Homo sapiens: one gene and its partners. The protein of the gene in region 3 interacts with the protein of the main gene of each other region in a pairwise test. Each region holds a gene or a part of one and is shown on either strand. Other genes may lie near its edges. The genes, in order: CCDC187, MARK4 and KHDRBS3.

Evidence for each region.
Region 1: the proteins of KHDRBS3 (region 3) and CCDC187 interact in a two-hybrid assay, tested with the Homo sapiens proteins (one large-scale study listed by BioGRID).
Region 2: the proteins of KHDRBS3 (region 3) and MARK4 interact in a two-hybrid assay, tested with the Homo sapiens proteins (one large-scale study listed by BioGRID).

The regions. Positions count from the first base shown.
Region 1 is NC_000009.12:136,294,002-136,297,651, forward strand, and holds part of CCDC187 (coiled-coil domain-containing protein 187), read right to left. Parts: intron 1-3,650.
Region 2 is NC_000019.10:45,299,692-45,303,341, reverse strand, and holds part of MARK4 (MAP/microtubule affinity-regulating kinase 4), read right to left. Parts: intron 3,532-3,650; coding exon 3,487-3,531; intron 969-3,486; coding exon 632-968; 3' UTR 1-631. UniProt on the Homo sapiens protein: Serine/threonine-protein kinase. Phosphorylates the microtubule-associated protein MAPT/TAU. Also phosphorylates the microtubule-associated proteins MAP2 and MAP4.
Region 3 is NC_000008.11:135,463,910-135,467,559, reverse strand, and holds part of KHDRBS3 (KH domain-containing, RNA-binding, signal transduction-associated protein 3), read right to left. Parts: coding exon of another isoform or gene 3,584-3,650; intron 1-3,583. UniProt on the Homo sapiens protein: RNA-binding protein that plays a role in the regulation of alternative splicing and influences mRNA splice site selection and exon inclusion. Binds preferentially to the 5'-[AU]UAAA-3' motif in vitro.

The DNA of each region.
Region 1 (3,650 bases), on a different chromosome or scaffold from region 3:
ATACACACGCCCTCACATGCTCTCACACACACACTCATATACACACGCCCTCACATGTGCTCTCACACACTCACACGCTCATATACACACGCCCTCAAGTGCTCACACTCACACACTCTCACACTCATACACACGCCCTCACATGCTCTCACACACACATTCACTCACACGCTCATATACACACGCCCTCACATGTGCTCTCACACACACTCACACGCTCATATACACACGCCCTCACGTGGTCTCACACTCTCACGCGCTCATATACACACGCCCTCACATGTGCTCTCACTCTCACACGCTCATATACACATGCCCTCACGTGCTCTCACACACACATTCACTCACACACACTGCTTATTCCACCTGGCTCTGCAGGGCCAACACCACACATGCCAAGGGTCCCTGGCCCCTATGCCCCTTCCTTAGGCCCAGCCCAGGGCAGCTCCACCCCGTGGCCTGGGGTCAAGACCACTGTGGAGTCTCAGCCAGGGCTGGCCCTGGCCCCCATGAAGGGGGACTTTCTGCCAAATGAGAGTGCCTTGGGCAGGGACCATCCAGAGAGCTGAGCACCCAGGGGCAGGCTCCCGGACTGAGTCAGGGACTTCCCTAGCACCCCCCAGACACGGCACCCTCCTCACACTGCCCTGACCCCTGGCCATCAGCCACAGGCCTGAAGCTACCTCTCCAGGAAGGTGAATGGGCTACATGGTTGCACCCACCAGGCCATGCCCTCCCAAAGCCACGTCCCCAAGGACAGGCTTCCCATGGCCACGGCCTCTCCAGGACAGGACCCCAGGCCATGCCCCACACCCACTTTAGGGCAGGACCCCTTAAGGCCATACACTGTCTAGGACAGGACCCCAAGGTAGAGGAAGGTTTAGGGCGTGGTCTCAGGATTCTCAGACCTGGGTTTAAGTCTGGCTCTGCCACTCACCAGCCATGGGCCTCAGGCAAGTGTTTCACTTATCCATGCCTCAGTTTCCCCATCTGTAAAATGGGGTGCCTATCTCACAGCACCTCCCATAGGGCCACAAGAATGAAAGGGCAGTCACGATCATTGCAGGAGTTAGGCCTGGAAGAGGGTCAGGATTCCACTGGCTCAGGGTGGTGTCAAAGGCCGGAGTTGAGGCCAGCGTGACCCAACTGGTCACAGCTGGGTTTCGGGGGGGACCCAGCGTGGAGGGGAGCCCCGGTGGGGTTTCTCCATCCTAGTCCCTACAGCTGCTCTCCCTCGCTGGGTTGCTGGGCCAGGGACCCGCCTGGGGAGGGGCTGCCCGCCTGCCCGCCCGGCCCCTCCATTGCTGGCCACTCACTTCCCCATTAGCCCGCCAGAGGGTCCCGCTCGATAAATGGGTCCTGATGGGCACATTTTTTCTTCCGCTGAGCAGTTTAATGGCAATTAATTTTTTTACGAGAGGATTTTTAATCTGTGGAAATGGATGAAGTCCCCAAGTGCCCTGTCAAAGTTCTGGGGCCGACCTAATCTATGATAAAAAATGCAAAGTGAGGTGATATAATCTGAAATTAAATATCAGGCTTCATTTTCCTTTGGCCCGGATGGATGAATATTTTATAACTATTGTGATTTAATTTTTTGTTAACTACAGCAAATTTCTAATTCATCCAATTCCCAAGTCCTGTGGCTCTGACCTCTGAACCGAAACTCATCTCTCCTTAGCCCAGCTGTGACTTCGTCACTGACAGAAACTAATGGTCAACACTGTCAGGGTGACACGGTGTTTACGATGATGAATGCGGCCGGTGGCATGCCCTCTGACCCAGTGTCAGGCAGAAAGCAGGTCATTTTTCAACAGAGCCATTAAAATAAAACAAACCAAAGACCTGGGGGAGGGAGGGGGTGATCATGCAGAAAATTGTTATATTGTACGCATGTTTCCACGGCCTTCCGGAACCTTCTGGGTGCCCGGGTCCCTACATCGCAGTCCCCTTCTGCTCGGCCTCTGGCCCCGCTGAATGCACACGGTGGCCCCGCAGCCCCGCTGAGCTCCCACCTCACCCGCGTGTCCTCTCTGGGTATGGGCACAGAGGCGTTTACTCTCGGCTGGAAGCTGCTGCTCTGCCTAGGAGCAGAGGGGCCGGCAACTGATGACACGGGACAGATGCTTAGGCACCTGGGCACGGACAGAACGCACGCCACGCAGTGCCCCTCCCCACGGCCCCAGGGCTGTGATTGCACGCAGTGTGGAGAAACTGAGGCATGGAGCATTACAGGAGTGGCCAGCGAGCTGGCACTGCTCACACTTGGAGTGAGGGTCCCACAAAGCCAATCTCAGGCGTTCACTCCACCTGGGGGCTCTTGCTGGTGTCTCCAAAACGCTGTGGTTCGGTGGCCCCAGAATCCACGCCTGGAGGGTGGCCTCGACAAGCTGCCCAGGCGTGGCCCCAGGTGCACACGGCTGGGCTTCCAGGTTAGGAGCACCGGCCTTGGGCTGGACGGGTGGGAGGCTCTGCCTCTGTGCAGCCCCGGGCAGGCTGTGGAAACTCTGTGAACCTCGGTTGCCTCATCTACAAAATGGGAGCAAGACTGCCAACCTTGGCGGGGAACCAGGAGGCTGCAGTGAGCTCACAGAGTGCGGGCACTGGCCACTCCCCTGACCTCGAAGACGCCCCAGAAGGAAGCCCCAGAGGGACTCTGCCTGCCACCCACCCGCTCAAGGGCAGGGGCCGCTGTCAGGTTCGCCCTGCAAGCTCTGAAACCCATGCCCAGGCTGGGCCGCTGGGTCTCTGCAGGGCACTGACACCTCTGCCCAGTCCTCAGCAGGGAGATGCCTGGATCAGAAATTCCTCTGTGACCACTGGGATCCACCCACAGGATTACCTGACTGGACTCTCCGGGAAACACGCATGAAATTAATCGTAATGCAAGCACATGGCTGACTCACACACCCCCTGTGCCTGCACAAAGTCCCCAAGCTACTGGAGGGAGTGGGGTCTGCGGAAGACCCTCTCCCACCCCCAAGTGTGCAGGTGGAAGGAGATGCCCTGGGCTTGCTCACTAAATGTGAACGTGTGACAAAGAAAGCAAGCACGGCTCCCTCGGCCAAGCGTGCCCTGAGCTGCCCACTGCATGTGCACACATGCCAGTATCTGTTACTGCTCTGAAGAGCCGTGAGCTGCAGGTGGCGTGAGCTGCAGGTGGCGTGAGCTGTGGGTGGCGTAGGCTGTGGGTGCCGTGAGTTGCGGGTGCCATGGGCTGTGGGTGTCCTGAGCTGCGGGTGCCATGGGGTGTAGGTGCCCTGAGCTACGGGTGCCGTGAGCTGCGGGTGGTGTGAGCTGCGGGTGGTGTGAGCTGCAGGTGGTGTGAGCTGCGGGTACCGTGAGCTGCCAGTGCATGCTACAGTGTGGTTGAACAGCTCTGTTTTCTTAGACTCGCCCAGTCTCTGGGTGTTGAGAGGACAATAGTGCCTGGTGTTTGGTGGACTTTCACTTTGTCTCAAGGGACACGCCCCTGCCCGGACAGGAACCACCTGCTGCTCCAGTGGTGGCCAAGGTCACCAGTTGCCTGGGACACCAGCCCTGACGCTCCAGCCGGGCCTGCCGATCCCAGGTGCCCTGCAGAACCCTGTGTACATGGCAGTCCGACTGGCCAGCCCCAGCCCCAGCCCCAGAAATGAAAGCCATCTGCC
Region 2 (3,650 bases), on a different chromosome or scaffold from region 3:
TGGGCAACAGGCTGCAGGTGAGGGGGCTGACAGGAGGAGGGTCGGGGTGTAATAACTTAAAAACCGTAGGTGACAGCGGCAGCTCCTCAAGAGACCTTTGCAGAGGGGAGGGTGTGGGGTATTTACAAGGATTTGTACAAAGTGCCCCGCGCCAGCCTGGGGCAGGAAGTGGGGGTTTGAGCGTGAGGGGACGGGAGGGGAAGGAATCTGCCTCTCTGACCCCCACTCCCAGTCCCCCAGATTCTCCAGTCTTTAGGCTCAGCAGCTCTCCCTGCCCCTGCCCAAGGCCTAATTTTGAGCTGTTGGGAGGAATGGAAGATTTCCTCAGTTTCCCTCCCTGCCCCTGCCCTGTCCCCAAAGTCTCCTCAGGTGCCCTCTTGGTAGGGCGAGGGAGGACAGGACTGGCTGGAGGCTCCAGGAAGGTGCCAGCTCCCCCCGCTGAGCCCCCTCATCCTTCTTCTGTGCTGAGCGGCCCCAGAGAACAGCAGAGGGGACAATCTTTGCCCCCAAATATAATTCAGGGAAACTGAGGTGATGATAAAGGGAGAATCCCCTCCCTGGCCCCTTCCCCTCCTGTAGAAGTGAAGGCGACAAGGGAGAGGAAGAGTAAGGGCCCTGGGACCGTGGTGGCTCAGAGCTCGAGGTCGTTGGAGATGCGGGTGACGAGGGTGCGGAAGGCCAGGGCGGTGCCCGCCACACGGCGGAAGAGAACTCCCCGCAAGCCTGGCCGGGGCAGCTGGCAGACCTCCACTTCGAAGTGGGACAGGGGCTCGGGCCCGCCCGCACCCCCGTGCAGGCAGGCCAGCAGGAACGGCTGTGGCTGGCGGCAGCGGCAGCGGGCGGCTGCTGTGGCCTGGCGCAGAGCTGCCATCAGGGCCTCAGGAGGGCGCGAGCTGGTCAGCTTCACACTCCAGGGGAATCGGAGCAGCCGGGGGGCGGTTTCCGTTTGATCCCAAGGTAGATGGCAACTGAGGCGAGAAGATGTCAGGGGTCAGAGATGGGAGCGAAGAGGAATGTGGTGGAGGGCTGAAGGGACAACTCTTCCCAATTCGGGACACATTCCTAGCCATCCCCTCAAAAAACATCTTCCCCTGTTACCCCAGCGACAGTTTCAACTGGATACAGAGCTGCCCAGCTAGAGACCACACTTTCCAGCCTCCCTTGCAACCAGGTGTGACCTTGTCTGTAAATTCTGGGACATGAGCAGAAGTGAGATGTGCCATCCACATCAGTTCCTTCAAAGAACCTGCATGTGCCAGGCTCTCCTGTCCCACATCTCCCAGGAGCTGGACTTAGCAGTGGCACAGGCCAGCCTCAACTGTGAAGATGACAAGGGCTCCAGGGAATCGGGATGCAATAACCTGGGGACCTGAATGACCGCATAGATCACAGTGGCCTTACCAGCCTGGCTTGGCCACATGGTTTGAATGTTTGAATGAGAAATTTCTTTTTCCTTTTCTTTTTTTTTTTTTTTTTGAGACGGAGTTTTGCTCTTGTTACCCAGGCTGGAGTGCAATGGAACGATCTCGGCTCACCACAACCTCCGCCTCCTGGGTTGAAGCGATTCTCCTGCCATAGCCTCCTGAGTAGTTGGGATTACAGGCACGCGCCACCACGCCTGGCCCCAGCTAATTTTTGTATTTTTAGTAGAGACACGGTTTCACCGTGTCAGCCAGGATGGTCTCGATCTCCTGACCTTGTGATCTGCCCGCCTCGACCTCCCAAAGTGCTGGGATTACAGGTGTGAGCCACTGCGCCCGGCTTTTTTTTTTTTTTTTTTTTTTGAGACAGAGTTTCGCTCTTGTCGCCCAGGCTGGAAGGCAATGACACAATCTTGGCCCACTGCAACCTCTGCTTCCCGGGTTCAAGCAATTCTCCTGCCTCAGCTTCCCAAGTAGCTGGGAGAACAGGCACCACGGCCAGCTAATTTTTGTATTTTTAGTAGAGACGGAGTCTCACCATGTTGGGCAGGCAGGTCTTAAACTCCCGGCCTCAGGTGATCCACCTGCCTTGGCCTCCCAAAGTGCTGGGATTACAGGCGAGAGCCACAGTGCCCGGCCACTTCTTAGTTTTTTTGAGACAGGGTCTTGCAATGCAGTAGTGCAATCACAGCTCACTGCAGCCTCGACCTCCTGGGCTCAAGTGATCCTCCTGCCTTGGCCTCCTGAGTTGTTGGAATTACAGGCATAAGCCACTGTGCTCGGCCTCTGGGGGCTTTTTGATTGTCACATGTCTTAGGATGGGAGCACTGCTGGCACTGACTAGGTTGGGGATGGGGTAGGTCAGGAATGAAAAACATTCTCCAATGTGCAAGAGGGCCCTGCACAACAAAGAAACGTCCCGCCTGAAGTACGAGAGTGCTGCTCTACATGAGCATCCCAGGACTAGCCTCCCTTGTTCCGGTGGGGCCGCCCCTCAGCTTGGGTGAGCACGACTCAGCTCTGCCAATGATAGCATTCTACTTCCCGGCCACTGTGCTTGGGTCAAGGGTGACCACATGACCAGGTCTGACCAACCAGAGTACTTCTCCTCTCTGGCTGCAGGCATTGGTTTAGGAATGAGCATGTGACCAAGTCCCAACCAATGAGAGTCAGCCCTGGCAGTTTGTTGCAGCTGCTGGGAAGGCTCCGGTTTCCACTTGGGTCTCTAAACCGGGAACTCAGACAAAACCAGGGCTTGGCAAACTCCAGTGCTGTCTGCTTTTGTAAATAAAGTTTCATTGGAACACTGCCATACCCATTTGTTTTGTGTTGAATATGACTGCTTTTGCACTACAATGGCACAACTGAACAGGCGTGACACAGGGTGCCTGGCCCTCAAAGCCTAAAATCTTCATGATCTGGGTCCGTACAGATGTTTGCCTCCTGCTGGCCCTGAGCTGCCAGCAAACATTGTGCCATGACTGGATGAGAGGCAAAAGGAGGTGGGGGCATTGACCAGAAGAGGAGTTGAGTTGTGGATGGGATGAGGCTTTTTTTTTTTTTTTTTTTTTTTTTTCAGACGGAGTTTCACTCTTGCTACCCAGGCTGGAGTGCGATGGCACAATCCAGCTCACCGCAACCTCTGCCTCCCGGGTTCAAGCGATTCTCCTGCCTCAGCCTCCCGAGTAGTTGGGATTACAGGCATGCGCCACTACGCCCGGCTAATTTTTGTATTTTTAGTAACGACGGGGTTTCTCCATCTTAGGCTGGTCTCAAACTCCCGACCTCAGGTGATCTGCCTCCCTTGGACTCCCAAAGTGCTGGGATTACAGGCTTGGGCCATGGCACCCAGCCGGAGGCTGAAGTTTAAGATGATCAAGGGAAGGTGCTTGGGGTTGGGTGGGAATGAGAGGAGCTGGCAGAGAAGGCTGGGGCCACAGGGCATTTCAGGAAGTTGGCCTTGCAGGATGAGACTGGGGCCCCATCTAATGCCCTGGGGTAAGTGTCGGGAGGTGCTGAGGCAGGAGAGGGGAAGTGGCAGTCAGGGGTAGGCCCAAGCACTCACCTTGTGACCTCAGGTCCCCCGATTCTCTCAGGTTCGTCTGCGACCCTAGGGGAGGGGAGGGGGACAGAGTGTCTAATCTGGACATAGGGAACCCACCTCCCGCAACCCACTGCCTCTGGGACTCCAAGCAGCCCCTGCCTCAACCCCAGTCCCTCCGGGCTGGT
Region 3 (3,650 bases):
TATAGTTTTCCAAAATGCCTATCACGAAAGGCAAAGGCGGACAAAGCAGCTACTGCAAACTGAAACCCTAAAGAGGCCTGACACTACACGAAATGTGTGATCTTGACTTGGGTCCTGTAAAAGACAAAACCAGAACAACTGGTGCCATCAGCATGTGAACTGTAGATGAGATAACAGCACTGTGTGGTTGTTAAACTTCCTAATTTGGATCATTGTATGACAGCTATGAAAGGGAAGGCCCTTATTTTTAATAAATACATGTCAAGTTATTTAAGTATTCATTTGTAAAAGATAATATATGAGGAACAGAAATATATGTGTAATAATCTCATCTTAGATACAACGAATATATTCTATGTTAAAAATTTATAGTGAAATTAAACAAATACGAAACCACTGTCATTTAATCTTGTTTAATTTTTATTTTTAATTGTGGGGGTACACAGTAGGTGTACATGTTTATGGGGTACATGAGATATTCTGATACAGGCATGCAATGCATAATAACCACATCAGGGAAATGGGTATCCCTCACCTCAAGCATTTATCCTTTCTGTTACAAACAATCCAATTATACTCTTTTAGTTATTTTAAAATGTATGACAACCACTGAGGTGGCATCCTGCCTGCCATGTGCAGATGAGGGAATAGAGGCTCAGTGAGGTAAAGTCATGGTCCAGAACACACAGGTCAACTCAGCAATTCAACAAATATGTGTCGAATAAATGAATAAAATGAAAGGATAAATTTTTTAAGTCCTGGGGACTTGTTAACAGCATTCAGCCCTGCTAAAAGTTACTAAAACAGGAAGCCTGGCTTTGTCCAAAATTCCTCCCACATTTTATAGCTAGTACTCATCAAGTCTCAGCCCACTCAAGTCAGTAAACAGAAGGCAAGAGGAAGCAGAAATTTGCACACCAACTGACAAATCTTTTGTTACTGTTGTGTGCTTTCTTATACAAATCAGATTTGGGAATTTGATTTATATATTCCAAAGCAAATTAACTGTGAGGAGTATAATTTTCCCCCAAAATAAACATATTACCATGGCCAGTAACCGTAAGTCAGACTATCCTAACAAGTTATTTGACAAAAGCTTTCAATTTAATGTTTTTGGAGTATACTTTTCTTTAGGGCACACTAATCCCTATAATATAAGTTAGCTTTGTGACCTCGAACAAGTTATAAATCCCTCTAACCTCCACTTCTTACCTGTAAAATGAGAACAACAAAACTAAATTCACGTGAAAGTCATGGATTAAATGAAGAAATGTGTGAAGAACCTAGCTACAGTGCCAGGCATACCTCAGGCGCTTGAGCAATGGTGGCTACAAAAAAAGGCATGGCTTTCTGCAAATATTGATTAGCAAGTATGCCTCTTAAGAGATCAATAATATGAAAAATACCAATGCATGAAAATCAAAAGCAATGCACGTTTATTGATCAAGACTCAGTTCAGAAATAGCTACCAATGCGAAAGAAAGAAGGTAACCTAGCTATGTGGAGCGCCATCTAGTGGAAGAAAAGCAGAGCACAAACGGCACAAACATTGAAGCAGAGAAAGAACAAGGAAAAATGTTGAAAATGAAAACTGCCCCTTATCTTCATCATAATTTCTATATTTTCTCCCATGGGAGCACGAATCAACAGTGACCCCAAGTGTAAGATATATATCGAAAACAGACATTTAAAAGGGTGCCCTCACATACTCTTGCCCTTTATCATATCAACGAAGAACATCAATAATATGCTAGGAGCACCTTTTAAAATTCTTAAAATAGCAGCAGGGGCTGATTGACGAAAAATTATGGAAATGTAAAAAATTATGGAAATTTACAGCTTACCAATTCAGAGTAAGGTATCTTGTGCTTGTGGAAAGAGGCTGCTGGGTGTCCAGACATGTTTTAAGATATGCAGTCTTAAAACTGTTTATGGAAGCTTCATTTGTTAATTTAAGCTTCAGGTGCTGTGTCTTGAATAGCATAATAAAAATCAATCAGAGCTGCTGCTAATTTTGTGCATGATATTAATGAAAGAAGCTTCCTAAAGACTGAATTTCTCCTTCAATATTTCCTGGATTGGAAAACTAAAATAATTCTAACAACATAAAATTACCCTAAGAAATGAAAGTAGATGATTTATGTATTGAATTTGTATTATATACATTATATCTGAAAAGTGATGTCGATACTCACACATCTGTCTTACAACATTTTATAAAAATTGCAGGTAACGTTTATTAAGCACCTACTATGTGTTAGACACTGTACTTACGTCTAAAACAGCAACCCTACAAAGAAGGCATAAGGTCCCCAATTTCACAGATGGGGAAACTGAGGCTCTGAGAAATAAAGTAACTTGCAGGGGATTACAGACTAGAAAGCTGTCACCTGTAATCACATGGCTCTTTCTGCACCAGCTCATTCCTTGTTGAGTTAACACTGTTTCCCAAGTAAATGCTACCTACCAGATGTTGCCACTGGTCAGAAAGTTCCTATGCCGTTTTGCCATGCCCCTGTGTGCCCTCTGTATGGTACGCAACTGCCCTGCTCACCCAGTCCAATACTAGGCATGTAATTTGAAGAGCTGCATAATCCAAATTCCCCACAAAAGTAAAACATGAAAAACAAGACATACTCAAAGCTTCCACCTCTATCTGATGCTAACAGGTGCCCTACATAGTGTCATAGTGTTGGGCAGACAAAGATCTGAATCCTGATTCACCAGTTACTAGCTATGTGTTCTTAGGCAAATTATGTGACCTTCCTGACCTCGGTTTTCTCATCTATAAAATAAGGTAAAATGACTTACTCTTTTAAGACTGTTAAACTAATTCAATGAAATAACATACATAAAGCACGTAAACCAGAAAAGGCTCTTGATAAATGGTAGCTACTATCATTAGCAACTGCAGGGCAAGTATATTTAAACATATTCCCCCCTTCCAGAAAGCCAAAAGCATTATCTGTGGGAATACTTTTTTTTCTTTTGTGAACCTATTTTTAGAGAATGAAGAATTCACAAATATACCATAAACTGACTATAAATCCCTGATATCATACTCTCGACTGTTTTTGTGATAAGCAAAGTATTAAAATACAAAGAGCACTGCACCTCTAGGAGGCTCCCTCAAGAGACAGAACTTCAGCAAGAATTTCACTGGCTTTCTATATGGAATATTTTTCTATTTTCTTTTTGGTCACTGAAATATATACATATTTAAAAATCCTTACTTTGAATGCCTACTGAAGACTGCCGGAGAGCACAGGAGAAAAAAAAGTGAGCTTGCCTTTTTGGTAAAACACATTTTCAGTAACCCCTTTTAAAAATTCATCACCAATGGAAATTCCTAAGAGGCTTCTGCTATAATGAAACATTTATTTAAAAACAACAATGTTGAGTTCTGTCCTTTTACCTCTTTTCTTAAAGTATCTTAACAAAATACTGCAGACTTGGTTTAAAATTTCAGCCTGACTACTTATAAGCTGTGTACCTTGACTGGGCAAGTTACTTAGTGTTTTTGAGCCTTAGAGGCCTCATTTGAAAAAAATAAAGGAGGCACGCAGGGAATAAAACCTCCTACCTTGCAAGATCTTGCGGGGATGGGAGAGAATGCACAGAAAGCAGCTGGCACGGAAGAGCCTCAAATT